Linked DNA regions of Homo sapiens: regions 2 and 3 are each linked to region 1. The links come from fine-mapping of genetic effects on gene expression. A gene starts in region 1. Each other region holds a variant in brackets. All regions are shown on one strand. Distances are between the middles of the regions.

What was found. PIP is the estimated chance that this variant, and not a neighbour inherited with it, causes the effect. A credible set is the group of variants that fine-mapping cannot tell apart.
Region 2: its variant is the best candidate, but not a certain one, in a credible set for the expression of ATG4B in sigmoid colon (GTEx, PIP 0.82).
Region 3: its variant is the best candidate, but not a certain one, in a credible set for the expression of ATG4B in whole blood (INTERVAL, PIP 0.89).

Annotation. Positions count from the first base shown.
Region 1 is chr2:241,634,733-241,641,635 of GRCh38, forward strand. It overlaps ATG4B (autophagy related 4B cysteine peptidase), which reads left to right and starts at 2,961. Exons shown (of 13, transcript NM_013325.5): 1 at 2,961-2,992. The coding sequence starts at 2,983. THAP4 (THAP domain containing 4) reads right to left here and starts at 2,426. Exons shown (of 6, transcript NM_015963.6): 1 at 2,209-2,426. The coding sequence starts at 2,285. RefSeq lists silencers at 1,949-2,088, 2,159-2,228, 2,259-2,608, 2,979-3,028, 3,049-3,238 and 1 more and enhancers at 2,582-3,509, 3,909-4,442.
Region 2 is chr2:241,670,464-241,676,511 of GRCh38, forward strand. It overlaps ATG4B (autophagy related 4B cysteine peptidase), which reads left to right. Exons shown (of 13, transcript NM_013325.5): 11 at 263-319; 12 at 849-942; 13 at 1,728-3,394. The coding sequence ends at 1,801. It overlaps DTYMK (deoxythymidylate kinase), which reads right to left. Exons shown (of 5, transcript NM_012145.4): 5 at 5,284-5,774. The coding sequence ends at 5,664. Among named protein-coding and RNA genes, the nearest start is that of DTYMK, 13 kb to the right of the region's middle. The variant C/CGCT (reference allele first, on the strand shown) is at 2,994.
Region 3 is chr2:241,662,689-241,669,591 of GRCh38, forward strand. ATG4B (autophagy related 4B cysteine peptidase) reads left to right here. Exons shown (of 13, transcript NM_013325.5): 8 at 3,957-4,150; 9 at 5,455-5,533; 10 at 5,852-5,997. Among named protein-coding and RNA genes, the nearest start is that of DTYMK, 21 kb to the right of the region's middle. RefSeq lists enhancers at 2,796-3,401, 5,496-5,997, 5,998-6,497. The variant T/A (reference allele first, on the strand shown) is at 3,335.

The sequences.
Region 1 (6,903 bases):
GGTTCTTTGAGCCCAGAAATTCGAAGTTACAGTGAGCTAAGACTGCACCACTGCTCCCCATCCTGGGGAACAGAGTGAAACCCGGTCTTCTCCCCTCAAAAAAAATCAACCAACTCAGATGATCCTTGAGGACATTATACTGAATGAAATAGGGCAGGTGCAAAAAAACAAACACTGCATGATACCACTCACATGAGGTACTCAGAGTAATCAAATTCATAGAGACAGGAGAATGCGGGTTCCCAGAGCCTAGGGAGAGGAGGACTGGGGTATTAATGTTTAATGAGTCCAGAGATTCCGCTTTACAAAATAAAAATAATTCTGGAGGTGGATGGTAGTGACAGCTGCACAACAACGTGAATGTATTTGTTGCCATGAATTGTACACTGAAAAAGCGGTAGGAAAGGCTGGGAGCCGTGGCTCATGCCTGTGATCCCAGCTACTCTGGAGGCTGAGATGGGAGGACCACTTGGGTCCAGGAGGCTGAGGCTGCAGTGAGCTACGGTCATACCATTGCACTCCAGCCTGGGTGACAGAGTGGGACTCTGTCTCCAAAAAAAGTTAGGATGGTAAATTTCATGTTACATGTATTATACCATAATTTAAAAATGGTGAGAAAAAAGCAACCAGCGCAGGAAGATACTGAATAGGATGTTTAGTCATTTCTTTATTACCTAATAAAGATCCTTCATAACCATTTCTTCATTAAGGCAAACTCTGTGTTTAAGAACATAGGCCTGGGCCGGGCGGGGTGGCTTATGCCTGTAATCCCAGCACTTTGGGAGGCCGAGGCGGGTGGATCACTTGAGGTCAGGACTTTGAGGCCAGAGTTCGAGACCAGCCTGGCCAATATGGTGAAACCCTGTCTCTACTAAAAATACAAAAAAATTAGACAGGCGTGGTGGCGCTTGCCTGTAATCCCAGCTACTTGGGAGGCTGAAGCAGGAGAATAGCTTGAACCCAGGAGCGGGGGTTGCAGTGAGCCGAGATCGCACCAATGCACTCCAGCCTGGGCGACAGAGGGAGACTCCTTCTCAAAAAAAAGAGAAAAAAAGAAAAAAAAACCAGGCCCTAATGTGCACATAAGGGACAGGGTGGTCAGTTCTAACTGCTATTTGCTCCACCTGAGGCCAGTGTGGACCAGGACAAATCCTAACAGGATGGACTGGGCCGTTCTAAGCAACAGGACCTTCTAACCTCCTTTCTGAACACTGTGAGGCCAACTGCAAAGGTACCCCCCCACCCCCAATTCCGATGTCCTTTCCTCCCATACCATGTTAGACCGTTGCAACACGTTGCCTCGTTTTCAAAAAACAATAACAAAACTTCTAGGACACAAGCTCTGAAGGAAATTGTCAAGAAAGTGCGCTGGCTGACTTGTGAAATAATCTAATGTTACTAATTCTTATAATACATTGTAATGATTTAAGACTTACAGCAAACTACTGTGAACTTTCAATAACCCTATAAATAACACGTGCCATTCCCGTCTTTAAAACTTAAATAACACCATGCAACATAAAACAGAAACATCTCCAAAGTGGTTTTTAAAGTCTGTTCGCGGTTCTGGTGCCTCCCGCGTGTAATCCGCAGAAATCTCACTGAAATAGGCTGAACTCACAAGGCCTTAGAGGGGTTTGGGCCCTGCCGCGGGGGCCCACGTGGGAAGCGGCCGAGAGCCCCGGGCCAGGCTCTAAGGGAGCGCAGGAGGATGCCGTCCCCAGCCGGCCGTCCCGTAGACTCTCCGCGCGTACCCGCGTCCTGGGCTCGGGGGCCCAGTCCCGGAAAGCCCTCTCGGGGGCTGTCAGCTACGGAGGCGCAGGTCGCGTCTGCCCGGTCGCTCCTGCTCGCAGACATCCAGGCCGACGGCCCGCGCGGTCCGGAGAGTCAGCAGTCGCGGCCGAGCAGGACAATCGGCCCAGGACCTGCGCTTCCAGAGCGTGCGGCTTCTGAAGCCTAGGCGCCGGCCGGATCGATCGCGCGCAGGGCGGACCCAGGCGGCCGGGGTGGGGGCGGCTGCGCTGCCCGAGGCGCCCGGCCCAGAGACGGCGGCCGGGCCAAGGTCACACAGCGCCCACGCCCGCTCCCCCGCGCCCCGGCCGCCGAGGCCCGGCGCCCCCGCCCCCCGCGTTCGGGCCGGCCGCGGGGCCTCAGTTTCCCCGCAGGGCCGGGTCGGGGCGGGGGCGTGGCGGCCCGGGGCCCGCGTACCTGTGGAAGGAGACGGCGCGCTTCTCGCCCTTTCCCTGCCGGTTGGAGCAGTTCACGGCCGCACAGCAGATCACCATCGCGGGCCTTGGCCCAGCCGCGCAGCCAGGCCCCGGCCCTAGCCGCCCGCCCGCCCGCGGACCGCCCCGAGGGAGGGAGCGCGGCGGCGACACGGCTCGGGACGTGGGCCGGCCCGCGGCGTCCGCGCCGTACGGCAAGATGGAGGCGCAGGCGCCCGCAGCGGGCCCGCCCCCGCCCCAGCCCCCGCCCGCGTCCTCGCCAGCCGCGGGTTCGGGCGTCTTCGGACCAGCGGGGCGCCGCAGGCCCCTCGCAGCGTCCGTCGGCAGGCGGGCAGACGGGCGGGGGAGTCGCCCCGGCGGGGCAAGTCCGTACCGCGACATGGGCGCGCCGAGCACGTCCGTACCGCAAGATGGCTGCTCGGACGGGGACAGAGCTCGCCTCTGCCGCCTCGACAACTGCTCCTGGGTCCTCTAAGAGGAGGAAGCGCCACCCATGGCACACAGTGTCCCGTCGGACAGCAGAACCAGCCGTCGTCCCACGACACGACCCCATGCCGCCCGCAGGGCGCCCCGGGGCTCGCGTCGGCCCGGCCGTACGCCAAAATGGCGGCTCCCGCGTATTTCCGCTCGCGCGCCGTATCGTCTTCGCCGCCTGCGCCGGCACACCTATTGGCCCCCGCGGCGTCCCGTCGCCGCGTCGCGTTGCTGGCCCGTCGGAGCGACGCCGCTCGGGTCAGTCGGCGGCCGGACTGGGAAGATGGACGCAGGTGAGGAGTTGCCGGGGGTCGGTCTTTCCGCAGGAGGTGCTCGCCTTATCATTGGCCTCCCCTGCTCGGGTCGGGCTGCCGCGACTCGCCTCGGGGCACGCCGGTGCGGGCCAGGCTGGGCCGGGGCGGCGGGCGCTGCGGGAGCGCGGGGCGGTGTTGGTGGGTGGTGGGCGGTGGGAGCGGGAGGGGGACGGCGGCGCACTGCGCCGCGGAACCCGCCGTCGGTTGCGCTGGAGCTTCTGCTTTTCCGGTCCCGTCCGGAGCGCTCCGGAGGTTGTGGCTGCACAGGCCCTTGCGCCAGGTCGGCCGTGGAGGGCGGCGGAGCCTGCCGGGCGGGGAGAGGCGCGGCGGCGAACGGGGCGGCCGCGGTCCGGGCCGGGGACGCGAGCGGCGGGCGAAAGCGTAGCCTTTCCGCAGCTGAGCGTGAAGGGATGGAAGCTCTTTAACTTTTATGAAGTTATTGGTAGGTTGGAGGAGAGAAACGTGACGTGTTCATCACAGTATACGTATCTTTTTTGTTTTTGTCTTCAATTTAGTAACCAGTAGATTCTCCAAGCTGCTTTTCCGTGACGAGAAAGAGAAACAGTGAATTTGTATCATCGGGTCTTAGTTTCTTGGGGTCCTAAGAGAGAGAGAAAGAGAAGGAGTGTGTGTGTGTGTGTATAGGGAGTGTTGGTTTTTTTCCTATCCTTTCATGCTTCCGCTCCATTTTTGCTAGCAAGATTATTTTAAGTCAGCGCCAAACCCATCGCTAGCCCAGTAGCCCTAGAAATATTTTTACACAGAAGTTTTAGCTCATTCATTCTTTGTGGGAACTGATTTGCCTTTTACCAAGTATCCCCCATCTGTAAAGAAAGATTTTCATCTGGTTTAATTCTGTCATTCTGAATGGGATTGTTTTTACTTTTTATTTTTCTGGTAGCTACAACATAAATTTATTAAGATCTGAGTTGGAAAACTGTAATGTGTATTGCCAATATCTATTAAAATGATTTGTAGCAGCTCACCACTTAAATGTGGTAGGTGGCTGGAGGAAACAGGAGCCCTGACTCCCTAAGGAGCATGTTGACCAGGTGTATATCTTGTGAAGTTTGTCTTTTAGAATAACCGTCATTCACGGTTGAACTATTTGCAGCTGTGTACTATTTGTTGTTTACTATTTTACAACTGTTGTATTATATCTTTTTAGGTGTTATTGTTTGTGATGCAGGATTTTTCTCAGCCACTCTGGCAGCCAGAGACCTCCGGCTGGCGAGGCCCCTGCCCAGGCCTTGCTTGGGTCCAGGCTCGCCGCAGGAGATACCCCATCTACTTGGTCCACCGGTGGGCACCTGGTTTGCACTATGGCACGGATACCATGGCCACCATGACTGTATGCTCAGCCCCTGGCGGGAGTGGGTGTGTGGGTGAGTGAGTGCCGGGTCCCGCCAGCTGTTTCAAGCGCAGGCACCAGAGTGGGCTCTGCAGAGCTTACAGCTAGACATGTGGCAAGCAACTCCCACGGCGGACTCCAGCGTCCAGACAAAGGGACAGTGGATTCTGGTGTCCAGACAAGGGGAAGGTAGTGGCGCCCAAGCAGGGGTGCTTACAACCCTGAAGCCCAAGAGGGGGTGTTGCAGAGTGTCAGCAGCCCTGTTACTCCCATTGCCCTGCTCCAGGCTATAGCTCTGGGGCTGGCTCCGTCCCCGCTGCTTCCCTTTGCTGCCTCCTGTCACGTGGGGTGTCACAGTGGGTGGCTGCCCTTTGCCGGCAGAGGGCCCAGGGCCACAGTGTTACAGCCTTCTTTGTACTTGCATTCATTGGGTCCCTAGTTCTTGTCCCACGTCCAAGAAGAATGAGACTACACTTAACACTGACAATCGAAGGGTGAGGAGGGTGGAGAATAGTTTTATTGAGTGATGAAACACCCCTCAGCAGAGAGGGGACTCAAGGGTGGTCTTCCACCCAAAGTCGGGTGGTCTCCCTTGGTGTGGCTGGGTCCAGGGCTTTTATAGGCTCAGAATGGGGAGTGTGTGCTGATTTGTCTGTGAGTATGCAAAAAAGGTTAAAACAAAGTCACTACTCAAAGGTGGGCACAACAGTGTAATAAACCAATTAGAGAAAAGTAGGTATATGTAAAATAGGTGAAGGGTGGGGATTAATTAGAGGAAAGCGCACCAAACAGGAAGAGAGGTTCGCAATCCAGTCTGTGGATTTATCCGAGACTCGTCGCTTGGCTTTCAGGCTTTAAACTGTGGCTTGAAGGTTGGGTTTCACTGGTGACCCACCCCTCTCTGCCTAGGATTTGTCTGCCTCCTGCCTCTATCATTTCGATACCTTGAGGCTGGAGTATCATATGAGAGACTTGGCTAAGGTCAAAAACACGGTTCAGTGTCGATCATATGACCTAAAATGTGAAAATCATCATGTTCAAGTTGGGAGAACAGTTATGTTGTTACATGGCGATACTTTATTTTATCTTTTATTTTCCCTTGACAACTGTGTTGACATGGTGATACTTTAATAGGACACTGGATGTTGCTGCATGTGGGATCAGAGTAGAAAAGGTGTTTGCATTTAAAGGTCTCTGTTTATGCTGATAAAAACGTATATGATGTTTGTAGGATATCATGGGGAATTTTCCTTCTGACTTGATGCTGTATTTCCTTTCAGAGATGATTAATGATCTGCCCTCCTTTGATCTCTAGAGTTCTTGAAGATTCTGCCTTCCTTGACCATGTGTAATACAGTTTCTGTTCTGATAGTCATTAATTCAATACACTGTTTGTTACTGACTGTCAGATATGTGTTAGGCATTGTTCTAGACACTAGGACTAGAGAAGTAACAACATAGATGAAAACCATTGCCCTGGGGTAGCTAACGTTCTAGACATGAGACCAGCATTAGCAGCGAAGTGCGTGGCTCCTGGGGGATGGTGATTTGGGCCAAGGATGAGGAGGATTGGAATTGTAGCCAGGATGGCCAGGAAGGGTCTCACTCTGAAGGTTTAAGTTTTGACGAAGACTTAAAGCAGTGTAGGAGGAAGGGCAGGTAGCAAGAGCCTGGTGTGGCTCAGGTGCAGCGGGTGGCGGTGGGAGAAGCAGGAGCTGAGGATAGAAAGGTGACTTAGGCTCAGTGTAGTGGGGCCTTGCCAGCTCATAGTGAGGACTCGGTGTTTATTCTGAACAGGATGGCAGCTCATAGTGAGGACTCAGTGTTTATTCTGAACAGGATGGCAGCCGTTTGGAAGGTTTCATTCTAGAGGAGGAGTCACATGATAGACTGTGTTCAACAGGCTTGCTCTGGCATCTCTTTTGAGAATGTACTGCAGAGGGGCAAGGGCAGAGGCAGCGAGACCAGCTAAGAGACTGTTGAACAAGCCAGCAAGGAGATGCCAGTGGATTAGCTCAGGGTGGGTAAGAGGTTGACTTCTGCATGTGTTTTGGAGGTTGAGACAATAGAATTTGTTTGTAGATTGGAAGTTGGGAGAGGGATGGGTAGAGAGGGAGGAGTTAAAGATGGCCCCATAGTGTATGGCCTGAGCTAAGCAACTCAGATGGAGGGGGGCGGGCGTGGTGGCTCACGCCTGTAATCCCAGCACTTTGAGAGGCCGAGGTGGGCGGATCACAAGGTCAGGAGATCGAGACCATCCTGGCTAACACGGTGAAACCCCGTCGCTACTAAAAATACAAAAAATTAGCCGGGCATAGTGGCGGGCGCCTGTGATCCCAGCTACGCAGGAGGCTGAGGCAGGAGAATGGCGTGAACCCGGGAGGCGGAGCTTGCAGTGAGCCAAGACTGCGCCACTGCACTCCAGCCTGGGCGACAGAGCGAGACTCTGTCTCAAAAAAAAAAAAAAAAAGAAACTCAGATGGGGAAGACTTGGGGAGGTCCTGTCTGGTGGGAAGCTTTCTGTTGCGAGTTTGGATTT
Region 2 (6,048 bases), 35 kb after region 1:
ACACCACGTAACATCTCGTGGGCGAATCAAGGCACAGCAACGCAGTGGAGCCTGAGGGGAGCCGGGCACTGGTGCAGGGGACCATGCACAGGGCACCCTCGGAGCTCCGTTCCTGGCCACAGGAGCCAAGGCAGGCTGGAATGTCCAGCACCTGCATGCTGGGGGCCTCTGCTGCGCCACTGGCAGTGGGAATGGAAGCCCCCACCTCTTAGCCGACTGCAGATGGGGGTGTCGTGTTCTGCTCATCGTCATTTCGTTTTAGGGGTTTTTCTGTAAGACTGAAGATGACTTCAATGATTGGTGCCAGCAAGTCAAAAAGGTTTGTAGCCGCCCCACACCCACAGCCGAGCTGAGCCACCCAGGGAGACAGGCAGTGGGGCGTGCAGGGGTCGAAGGCCTGCGTCCAGGTCTCAGGCAGCCTCACTGGGCCGTGGGGAGCTTTGTCCCGCCTGGCACAGCTATGTAGCTGAGCAGGGTGGGGCGTCCTGGATTGCCCATCTGGCAACACAGTTAACAACCCTGGGGACGGATGTTGCGTGTTGACTTTAGAATGGGATTTCCAGTGTCCTCATCCGTCTCCTGTTGAGATGGGGGTGGTGATGGGGTGCTGAGCTACGCCGGCCGAGTGCGTGTGGCCCACCCCCCTCTGCCGTGGTGGTCAGACTGTGCTGTGTGTTGATCACCACACTGGGTTCTCGTGTAGCCTTTAGTGTGGAGCTGCCTCTGTTTTCTCATCAGTGAGATGGGATGACAGGTTTGTCCGCTGGCTGTGGCCGGCTGGCCCCTTTCTCTTGGCCGCAGCAAGCACTGGGGTGAGGCTGCACCTAACGGCCATGTCTCACTAACAGCTGTCTCTGCTTGGAGGTGCCCTGCCCATGTTTGAGCTGGTGGAGCTGCAGCCTTCACATCTGGCCTGCCCCGACGTCCTGAACCTGTCCCTAGGTGAGAGCTGCCAAGTCCAGGTGGGGTCCCTCGGAGGTACGATCTGTGCCCTTGCTTCCCCAGTCCTGGCCCCCTTGGTTTTGACCATTAAGGTGTGTGTGAGCCTGAGCCGTGAGCACTTGGCAGTGGTTCGCCTGTGAGACCAGGTATGGAGTGGAGCGTCCCCTCCTCCAAGCTTGCGCCCAGCAGCCCAGGACCCACCTCGTCTTCCCCACCAGCGCTGCCTGCCCGGGCGCTGTGGAGCTGGGCGTGCTACCATGGAGTCCTCAGGGGTCTGGAGCAGACAGAACATGCAGGCTCTGTGGTGACGCAGTCCTGGGTGGGGGACTGGTTCACTTGGGCACCACTGGCCATGGGTGGCGTAGACCCCTCGGACCATGGCCAGCGTGCCGCAGGAGCCGGCCTGGGCTCGTGCAGTGAAGTGAGTGGCCGTGAGCGCGTCCTCCTCATCTCTGTCTCCCTGTGGGAAACTCTACAAACAAGGCAATGGCAATGGAACCACTCCTGATGACCACGAGGGTCAGACGCGGGACAGAGGCCCCTCAGGCCTGAGATTGTGCCGGCCGCCCCCTGCCCTCCTCACCCTGCCCTGCTCCTCTTCTCTGCTCCCTCCCCCCATATTCGCAGGTCTGCACAACCCCCGGACCTGTTCACACCCGCATGGGGACAGCTGTCTGTGGGCTGCAGAGCAGGCACTGCTCAGTCTGCCCCACGCCAAGGGCCCTTGACTCACACCCAGGTGGCCCACCCAAGATGCCTGATGCGCTATGTCCTGTTCCTTCTAGATTCTTCTGATGTAGAGCGACTGGAAAGATTCTTCGACTCAGAAGATGAAGACTTTGAAATCCTGTCCCTTTGAAAATCCTGGGGTCGGGGGTGGCACCTGTGAGAGCCTGGGGCTCCTGGTGCCGCTGCGTTTCATCCATCCCGCCCGCTCGCCTGCCGAGGGCTGCGCCCCGTGCTGCCTCCCCCCAGAGGGCCACCCGCTGTGCTCGTGGACTGAGGCTGCGCTGCCCGGGAGGCCTTACTGCTTGGTGTCAGACTGCCCAGCTCAGAGTGCCCGTCAGGGCCTGTGCATCCGCACGCGGAGCCGTCTGTTAGGAGCTTCCAGAGTGTTCTCTCGACACTGCCAGCCCCGTGTTAGCACCTGGGCCTCAGTCCCACTTGCTCCCAGGCGCCGGTTCTGTGGTTGGTTTGGAATTAAAGTCCTGTTTGAAGTTGTCAGACACAGACATGAATTTCTGGGCGCTCCCTGAGTCAGAGTCTCAGAAGACCTGTGCAGGCTGGCGTGAGAGGAGCGGCAGCCACACTGCGGCCCCACGCCCAAGGACTGGGCTGCTCTCGAGGGGGGCGCGCCCACCGCTGTGTCCTCTCTGCCCAGCCTGGCTTACCAAGGGCTACCTCAGTGGGAGATGAGGTTGGAGGAACGAAGGCGAGGTTCCTCCTTGCTTTGGGGAGAAAAGTATTCAGGAAGTGGGTGTGTGGGAAACCTGAAGATGGCGTGCACAGGACACAGCGTGGGCGGCCTGGGCAGAAGGGCGGCTGGCTGTCCTGGAGCTGCTGCTGGAGCCTGCCCTCAGAGTGTCCCTTTCCAGTGCTGTGGCATTCTGTGGCAGCTTCCCCAGGTGTGGTGACGGGGGGGGGGCGGGGCCTCCACCTGTGACAGCCAGGCTTGAGGGTGGACGGCGTGCCTCTCCCAGGAGCCTTCCCCATGTCCTTGCCTTGCTGAGAATTGCCCTCCCATGCCGCTGAGGTGTTAGGTGGTTTAGGGCCAAAAGGGGAAAACCACTTGAGTCTTGTGGTGTGTGGTGGGCAGACACCACAGGGTGGCATCACCTGGTGGCATTTCCAGAACCTCAGCCCCGATTCCAGCACCCACCACCGCCTGACCCTGTGTAACCTGCTGTCCCGGGTCCCAGAGTGCACTCTGCCCCGCTGCTCTGCTGCCTGTCCTGGGAAAGTATCTTTGCCCCACTAGGAAATGTAAACAGGAGGGCTTGGGGAGCGTGGGCACTTTTCTCATGAGCAGCTACTGCGGCGTTGGCAGGACT[C/CGCT]GCTGCTGCTGCTGCTGCTTGTGTAGGTCGGGGAGCCAGAGATCCCCGAGGACGCGCGCCGGACAGTCGGCACTGACCGGCCCACCTGGTAGCAGAGGACACCCCCAGCCCCCCAAGCATTGAAGACATAGTGTATTTCCTCGTATCCTTTCTCCCTTGGGTGTAGTTGGGGTGGGGAAGCAGGGAAGGCTGGTGCGATCTCCATTCCTTGGGCTCCACGTCCGAGTTCATGGTGCGCCGCTGTGCTGGGAGCTGCAGTGGTAATGTGTGGGACACCTTGACCAAAGGGGAGCTTTGTCTCGTGTGTTTTGAAAAAGGCTTAATGAAGAGAATGTTGTTCATTCTTAGTAGTATAGTTTGCAATTCTTAATGGCAAATAATAAGTTTCAGTAGAAAACAAACCTTGTGTCTATTTTTTCCTTAAGTTCTAATTGAATGTGAGTTCCAGAAAAAAAATAAGTGAATGTTTCAGCCCGTTCACACGTAAAGGATGTGGCTGCCTGCGTGGCGGGCTGTGGGGCCCTGAGCAGGTGTGTCCCCAGCCCTGGCAGGGGGCCTGTCCTGCCTGCAGCCTGGCTCTCTACCAGCCGTGGCATCAGCCACCTCATACAACCCTAGAAGGAAAAAGTGCAAGGAAAATAGGATTTTAGGAAAGTAAAATGGCGGTTCCCATCTTCAGCAGGAGGAAGTCACAGGAAGTGCCTGGAGTTGCAGGGTTTGCCTCGATTTGAATCATAGCAAAGCCTTCCCCAAGTGCGCAGTGACTGTCCTGGCCTGTGGGAGGCCATGCCTGGGGCACAGCAGGGGGCTTGGTGAGGACATTGCTCACTCTGGCCAGTGCATCCCTGTGGGCAGCCCTGGTATAGGTGTGAAGGGCCCAAAGCCAGATCGGAGGGGGCCCTGCTGGGTCCCCGGTGAGGTGGCTGAGGACTTGTGGCCTCTCCGATGCTCGTATTCGCTTCTTGTGGCTGCTCTAAAAGATGATCACATTCAGTGCCTGGAACAGCACAGCCTCTTCCAGACCCGGAGGGCAGACAGCCATATCGTGCTGTGGGCTCTAGGGGAGAACGTTGCTGTGCCTTTCTAGCTTCTGGATGCCAGAAACTGCTTGGCTCATGGCTCTTTCCTCCAACCACACAGCCAGCAACATGGCATCTCTCCAGCTTTTGCTGTTGGCATCTCATTTCCTGACTCGGACCGCCTGCCTCCCTGTTATGCGGACCCGTGATGGGCCAGGCATGGTGGCGCCAGCCTGTAATCCCAGCACTTTGGGAGGCTAAGGTGGATCACTTGAGCCCAGGAAAGAGAGGCTGCAGTGAGTCAAGATTGCACCACTGCACTCCAGCCTGGATGACAGAGTGAGACCCAGTCTTAAGACAACAAAAAAAGGCCCCTGTGATGACACTGGGCCCACCTGGATAGTCCAGGAAAGTCTCATCTGAAGGTTCCTCACCCAGGCCCATCCCACAGCCCCTGGCAATGCTTACCCAAGAGTGAAATCCTTTTGTTTTGCCTGGGTTTGTCTCTTGGCCACAGAAGGGTGCTGAGACCCACAGCTGCTGCCCCCACAGATGGGGGACCCTGCCTGCCTTCTACTCCAGCACACTGTATGCTGCTGTCTATGCGGAGTGTGCTCTGTGGGACAGATTCTGCCAGGAGTGTCAAATCATTCCTTCTAAGTGTCACTTAAAAGGGGATGCAATGGGCTCGGCATGGTGGCTCATGCCTGTACTCCCAGCACTTTGGGGAGGCCAAGGCAGGTAGATCACTTGAGCCCAGGAGTTTAAGACAAGCCTGGCTGGCAACATAGCGAAATCCTGTCTCCACAAAAAAATTACCCAGGCACAGTGAAGGCCTGTAGGCCTAGCTACTCAGGAGGCTGAAGTAGGAGGATCACCTGAGCCCAGGAGGTCAAGGCTGCAGTGAGCCACGATCGTGCCACTGCACTCCAGCCTGGGCGACAGTGAGACCCTGTTTCCAAAAAAATAAAAAATAAAGGATAGGATGAGAAGTTAAGCTCCAGGGTTGCAATGAAAATAGCAGAGTTAACTTAGGTGAGTTCAGGACGTAAGCTGTGATGACACTCGGATATAGCCTGGCTGGACCCAGCGAGCCCAGGGCATGGCTGCAACTGTTCAGACCCACAGTGGGACTCCCTCAACTAGGCAGGAACCAGGGTCCAGGAAGGCCCTACTGGGCCCAATGAAGGCTCTTCTCTCCTGGGATGGAGGTTCCCATTCAAAGCCAGCTCCGTCCTCAGTCTAAGAAAAGTGAAGCGTTCCACAAACAATTTTCAGGTCGTTTTTTACTAGTGTCTGGAAGACATTTAGGAGAATTCCAACTGATTACCATTTACAGTGATCACAATGAAACTGCTCAGAGTTATCACTGAACTTCAGTAAGAAAATACAACAGAGTGCCATCAGGACAGGGGAGAGGGCAGGAGACTGCTCCATCGCTCTGCTCATGTCCACACTGCCAAGGTCCCCACCACGGGGGTCCCCAGTGCACCCCAGCTCCGGGGCAGAAGAGGCAGCCTGCAGATCTCTGCTGCCGGGAAAGAGCTCCTGAAGTTGTGGGGTCTGGACTCTGCTGGGGACGGGGCCTTCCGCGAGTCTCCCACCTCTCGGGGGACTGCAGGGAGAGGCGTCTCCAGTGGGCAGCCTTGGGTCACTTCCATAGCTCCCCCAGCGGCTTCTCTGTGGCAGTGCGGATGGCGTCCTCAGAGAGCACGCGGATGTCCTCATGGACAGCTTCGATGCTTTTGGAAGCATCCACCATCTGTTCCCACCGGGGTTTCAGGAGAAAAAGAGGCTCATCAGCACGTTCCAGGCTGGTCACGGGAGCCCACGCCTGTAATCCCAGCACTTTGGGAGGCCCACGAGGGAGGACTGCTTGTACCCAGGAGTTCAAGACCAGCCTGGGCTACACAGGGACACCCCGTCTCTACAAAAAATGTGGCACCACTCTACTCCAGCCTGGGTGACACAGTAACACCCTGTTTCAAAACAACACCATGTTTCGTTCTGTCCTCTGTGCTCGTGGGGATTTCACA
Region 3 (6,903 bases), 28 kb after region 1:
CTCACCACCGGGAAGCCTTTCTATCAAAACATAACTTCAAAATCAGTAAAGTGGGCCGGGCATGGTGGCTCACGCCTATAATCCCAACTTCAAAATCAATAAAGCGGGCCGGGCGCGGTGGCTCACGCCTATAATCCCAACTTCAAAACCAATAAAGTGGGCCGGGCGCGGTGGCTCACGCCTATAATCCCAACTTCAAAATCAATAAAGCGGGCCGGGCATGGTGGCTCACGCCTATAATCCCAACTTCAAAACCAATAAAGCGGGCCGGGCGCGGTGGCTCACGCCTATAATCCCAGCACTTCGGGAGGCCAAGGTGGGTAGATCACATGAGGTCAGGAGTTAAAGACCAGCCTGGTCAACATCGTAAAACCCCATGTCTACTAAAAAAAAAGTTAGCTGGGCATGGTGGCACGCCCTCGTAATCCCAGCTGCTCGGGAAGCTGAGGCACGAGAATTGCTTGAACCTGGGAGGCAGAGGCTACAGTGAGCTGAGATCATGCCACTGCACTCCAGCCTGTGTGACACAGTAAGACTGTGTCTCAAAAAACCAAAACAACAAAAAATAATAAAAATATATAGAAAACAGAATAATTAACAGATTAGCTATGGAAAGATCAAAGCTACAGGGGACCCAGATAACACAACAGGCAGAGTTTAGTAGATACGTGTCAAACCCTAGATTGTGACAGCAGAGTGTGCCTGGGAATTTCTATGAAACTAATGCGGAATAAAATGAAAAAAGGACAAAACCCTGCTGCCTGGAAATGTGAAACCTCAAAAAAGTCAAGTGTAGAGACCGTAACTATGTATCTGAACCTGATGTGTACAGAACTCAGAAGAAAACCTGTGTATCTTCAGTACTAGTATATGGGTTCTTTACAAAGTGAAAATTAATGAAATAAGCATACAACTCAAGAATTCGGAAAAAGCAAAATTAACTGAAGAAACCAAAGAATAATATTAAAGACAAATACAGAAATTAATGATTTAAAGGAAGAAATGTATTAGGCCAGGTGTAGTGGCTCATGTTTGTAATCCCAGCACTTTGTGAGGCTGAGGCAGGAGGATTGCTTAAAGCCAGGAATTCAAGACCAGCCTGGGCAACATAGCCAGACGTCTATTTTTTTTTTTTTTTTGGAACAGTTCTGCTCTGTCGCCAGGCTGGAGTGCAGTGGTGGCACGATCTTGGCTCACTGCAATTTCCGCTGCCCAGGTTCAAGTGATTCCCCTGCCTCAGCCTCCTGAGTAGCTGAGACTACAGGTGCATGCCACCACGCCTGGCTAATTTTTTGTATTTTAGTGGAGATGGGGTTTCACCATATTTCACCATGTTGGCCAGGATGGTCTTGATCTCCTGACCTCATGATCTGCCCACCTTGGCCTCCCAGAGTGCTGGGATTACAGGCGTGAGCCACCGTGCCTGGACCTCATTCTATAAAATATTTTAAAAATAAATTTTAAAATTAAATTTATTAGAACTAACACATACTAGAACTGGCTCTTTGAAGCAATAACATATATGTTTTAAAAAAATCAAAGTTAAAATCCCTCCCTTGGCTAAGCACTGTGGCTCCCGCCTGTAATCCTAGCACTTTGGGAGGTGGAGGCAGGCAGATTGCTTGAGTCCAGGAGTTTGAGACCAGCCGCCTAGGTAACATGGTAAAACCTCATCTCTACAAAAAAACAAAACAAAAAAACTAGCCGGACATGGGGGCATGTACCTGTAGTCCCACCTACTCGGGAGTCTGAGGTGGGAGGATCCCATGAGCCTGGGAGGTTGAGGCTGCAGTGAGACATGATTGCACCACTTCACTCCAGCCTGGGTGACACAGTAAGACCCTGTCTCAAAAACCAAACAGAAACCCAAACAACTCCCTTAAGGCTGGGCGTGGTAGCTCCTACCCATAATCGCACCTCTCAGGGAGGCTGAGTTGGAGGATTGCTTGAGACCAACCTGGACAACTCCCTCTCTATAAGAAATAGAAAAATGAGGCCAGGCACATGGCTCATGTCTGTAATCTCAGCACTTCGGGAGGCTGAGGTGAGCAGATCACTTGAGGTCAGGAGTTCGAGACCAGCCCGGCCAATGTGGCAAAACCCCGTCTCTACTAAAAATACAAAAATTAGCTGGGCGTGGTGACACACACCTGTAATCCCAGCTACTGGGGAGGCTGAGGCAGGAGAATTGCTTGAGCCCAGAAGGCGGAGGTTGCAGTGAACCGAGATTATGCCACTGCACTCCAGCCTGGACAACAGAGAATCGGCTTCAAAAAAGAAAAGTCAGGGGGCACAGTGGCCCACACCTGTTGTTCCAGCTACTCGGGAGGCTGAGGCGGGAGGATTGCTTAAGTGCAGGTGTTTGAGGCTGCAGTGAGCTGTGGTTGCACCACTGCACTGCAGCCTGGGTGACAGAGTGAGACCCCGTCTCTAAAAGAAATTTAAAAAGTTCTGTCTCAGAATCCTTGTTTTCCAGCTGTCTGTTTTGAGAAATTTGAGTCCTACAAAAAAGTTCAGTGAGTCATGGCCACAAACCCTCCACCTAGATCCACCAATTGTGTTTTGACACGCTTGGTTTTTATGAGCAAGCCTCCTACGAATGAGAGTGTTCCTGAGAGCCACACAGCCTCATCACCACAAAAGAGGTGACGCCACGACTCACCAGGGTCCGTCTTGGCCCCTTGCTGTCCAGGGAACAACCCGTGCCGCTGATTTGTGTTCCTGGTTGAGGGTCCGGTGCTGTGTGTATATAGTTGTGATGTCTTTCTAGTCTTTAATTGAGAAGGTTCTGCCTCTTTGTTGTGGTTGTTGCTGCTTTGTGGCATTTTTGACGAGTTCAGGTCAGCTGACCATCCCACACGCTGGATTTGTCTGCTTCCTCACAGTTGGGCTTGGGTTGAGCCTGTGGCTGAGAGTAGCCTCTGGGTGGCAGTGTCCTCTGCTCTCCCATCCGGGGCCTGCAGTGGGACACTATGTCAGATCCCCGGAGATGGTGTCTTTTTTCCTTTGTAATTAATGAATAATCCAGTGGTGACACTGAGCATGTCCTGGTGAGCTGTGTGACTCCTGCCTGATAATGGTGGTTTTTCTAGCCTGTCCTTTCCTTTCACGTTTATTGGTTGGCGTTCTGAGAAGAGCCGCCTTTTCTCCCATCACTTAGTGTGCAGTGTGCTACCTGTCACCTGTCTGTCACCTGTCAGTCACTGTCACCTGTCACTGTCACTGTCACCTGTCACTGTCCATCTTTTTGATGCTTGACGGTTCCACCTTTGGCCGGTGGCCACCTCAGTCTGGTGGTGTCTTTTGCCGTGTTCTGGCGTTTTTCGTTTATGTT[T/A]TGAGCCCTCCCTTATGTTCTGGGTTAAGCAGATGCTGCAGGCACCTCTGAACATTCCCTGCCTGGCCCTGGAATCAGCCTGGCTCCTCTGAGTGGGGAGTGGTGTTGAGAAACCTCGATCTAGACGCCGGGCATGCTCCATGCTCCCGGAGTGTCTTCTCCCATCACCGCACCCTCCGGTTGATGTGTCCTCCGGACCATTGACTCACGGGTGTGTGTAGGCAGAAGGGGTGGAAGCGAGGAAAGGCGTTGCTGAGGAGGCCCGGAGGGAGCGGGTTCTGGCTGTGCTGGCACTAGCCAGGCTGGCAGGCTGCGTGGGTACTTCTGTGATTTTCCTCTCAAGTGCACGTGGCTTTTTCTTGCACTGTTTCGTGTGTGTGCTTTATTTCACAATAAAACTCTTGAATTAAGTATGCATAGAAACTATTTCTTTTTTCTCTGGGTGGCAAGATTATGAAAAAATTTTCTTACGCTTTTCTATATTTTCCAAGTTTGAATTTCACTGTAAGCACCTGGCTTTGTACCGCCCTTTTTCTGTTACACAGTCATCATTTGCTTGCTTGTTGTGGGAGCACTTTTGCACAGGTCTGCTTGGTTAGTGAAAGCATGTCTCCCTTTCTAGGAAGGTTGTGCAGGACCAGCGTTCCCTGTGCAGGCGCCACTGCGTTTCCTGCAGATTCCGACCGGCACTGCAACGGATTCCCTGCCGGAGCTGAGGTCACCAACAGGCCGTCGCCATGGAGACCCCTGGTACTTCTCATTCCCCTGCGCCTGGGGCTCACGGACATCAACGAGGCCTACGTGGAGACGCTGAAGGTGGGTCCTGCCGTGCGGCGCTTGCCCTGAGTCCCCGTCCCCTTCTCCCAGTTCTTAGTCACTTTCAGCGCATCGTCGTCACGTGGCCATTTGTGCAGCCGGCTCTCGGGGGAGGGGTAAACAACCCTGGTTTACACCGTTGCCCAAGGGGTGAGTGGGCGTGAGGCACGTCCATCAGTAGGCACGTGCTGCTTTCGTTCTGCAAGTGTCAAGGCGAGTGTCGAGGATGAAAGCATGAGGCGCTTGCAGGGGGTCCTTGGAACCAGGTGCCACTCCTCGGCCTGACGGGGAGCCCCGCCCCCTCCCGGGTCTCCACTGTGCCCCAGGCATGCCCACCCCACTCCCCCACAGCCCTCTTGGCCTGAGGTCCCTTCGGAGGGTGGGTTGGCCTGTGAGGAAGGGACGTGTGGGCAGGGCCTGGGGATGGGCAGGGCTGTGTGAGGAGCTCCAGCCACAGGCTCCCCCATGTCATGAAAGCAAAAGGGGGCGGGGAGCGGTGGCTCATGACTGTAATCCCAGCACTTTGGGAGGGCAAAGCGGGCAGATCACGAGGTCAGGAGTCTGAGACCAGCCTGGCCAACATGGTGAAACCCTGTCTCTACTAAAAATATAAAAATTAGCCGGGCATGGTGGTGCGCGCCTGTAGTCCCAGCTACACAGGAGGCTGAGGCAGGAGAATCTCTTGAACCCAGGAGGCGGAGCTTGCAGTGACCCGAGATCATGCCATTGCACTCCATCCTGGGTGACAGAGTGAGACTCCATCTCAAATAAAAAAAAAAAAAAAGCAAGCAGAAGGGAAAACCATCCTTTCTTCAGGTAACTCAAATTTTAGACCAAGGAGTCACATTTGTATGGAACTGAAATGTGGCTTCCTGTTAAAATTATTCAGTTGTCTGAACTTGGCCCCTCCGTCCAGCCTTCTGCCCATCCTGTGGGGTCTCAGCTGCCCCCACACATAGGCCCCGTCTCCATCGCTTCTGCCCTGTCAGGTCAAAGCACTCAGCAGGGCCACCTCCCGCACCCCTGCTCACATCTCCTGCCAGGCCCCCTCACTCCCGGCCTCCCCAAAGCCCACCTCTGACATGAAGCTTCCCTGAGCTGAGCCTGCAGATTGGGTTTCTTGTGCCTGTGGGATGTCCTGTGGTCTTTCCTGGACAGTAAGCTCTTTGGTACCATGTCCCCTCCTGTCCCCTCTTGTGTCACCCAGTTGGGCCTCAGCAGGCCCTTGGGCCCCCTATGGCAGTGGGTGGGGGGACCGTCTGCTCCCACCTGGGACCTGTGCTCAGTCCCCCGCCCCTCCACAGCACTGCTTCATGATGCCCCAGTCCCTGGGCGTCATCGGAGGGAAGCCCAACAGCGCCCACTACTTCATCGGCTACGTTGGTGAGTCCAGGGTTCCCACCGTGTCCCTGTGGGCCTGGGCCTTTTAAGGGCATTCCATGAGCAGGTACCACACCCCAGGTGACCACTTGAGGCCACTGGTGGAAAAGCAGCATGCCCTGGGGTTCATTTTCAGCCTGGTCGCGGGCGGCCTCCTGTGTGCCCCTTTCCCTGATGGTCTGGTGCCCTCGGCTCCCTCCCCACCTCCTGCCCACTGCTTCTCAGTGTGATGTGGGTGCAGTGGGTCTGAAATGCGGCCTCCTCTGTCCCTTTCCTCTGCCGGCTCGGCCACCCACCTGCCCACCTGCCTCATCCTCCCAGGTGAGGAGCTCATCTACCTGGACCCCCACACCACGCAGCCAGCCGTGGAGCCCACTGATGGCTGCTTCATCCCGGACGAGAGCTTCCACTGCCAGCACCCGCCGTGCCGCATGAGCATCGCGGAGCTTGACCCGTCCATCGCTGTGGTACGTGGCGGCCACCTGAGCACACAGGCATTTGGTGCTGAATGCTGTTTGGGAATGACGAGGAAAACTTTCGGATTTTTGCGTTTTTTTTTTCAGCATGTTGGGATAAGTACTGTGTTCACGTGGTTGGGAATCTGAAGGGTATAAGAGCCGGAACTGTGTCCTTGCACCCTCACGTCCCTCCCCCAGGCACCACCTCCTGTGCAGCCTTCATGGCCTTCGAGTGGCCCAGAGAGCGTGTGTCTGGATGTGAGCGTGTGTGGGCGCGTGCTGAGTGTGCATGGATGAGTGTGAGCCATGGTGAGTGTGTCCCCCTCACACCTACATTTAAACACACGGGCGGCCCCTCCACCCACCCCTGCACCACCTTCGTCACACCCACATTTAAACACGGGCGGCCCCTCCACCCACCCACTCCTGCACCACCTTTTGTTTTCCGGAGGCTCTGACTTGACCTCTCTGGGGGATTTCCTAAGAAGGAGCTTCCCTGTTTTTCCATTTTGATTACCTAGTTGTGATTTTTGGTGTGTGATTTATGCAGACCTGCCTGCCCTCAAATATATTTGATGGGGAAAGAGGCCAAAAAACCCCCCTAGAAATCATGAATGACGGTGACATGCTCAGGGAAGCAGTTAACCGAATCGGGGGCTCTGTTGTGGATGCTCCGCCCCATTTAGGAGGAAGAAGGCAGATCTGGGCCTGAAATGGGACGGTCTCTGAGCTGTGGCGCAGCCCCAGAGTGCACACCACGCTCCATGCACCTCCTGGGCAGGGTGGCAGTAGTGGGGAACATGGGCTGGAGCTCTGTGGCTCACACTTTTTGTTTGTTTGTTTGTTTTTGAGACGGAGTCTCACTCTGTCGCCCAGGCTGGAGTGCAGTGGCACGATCTCGGCTCACTGCAAGCT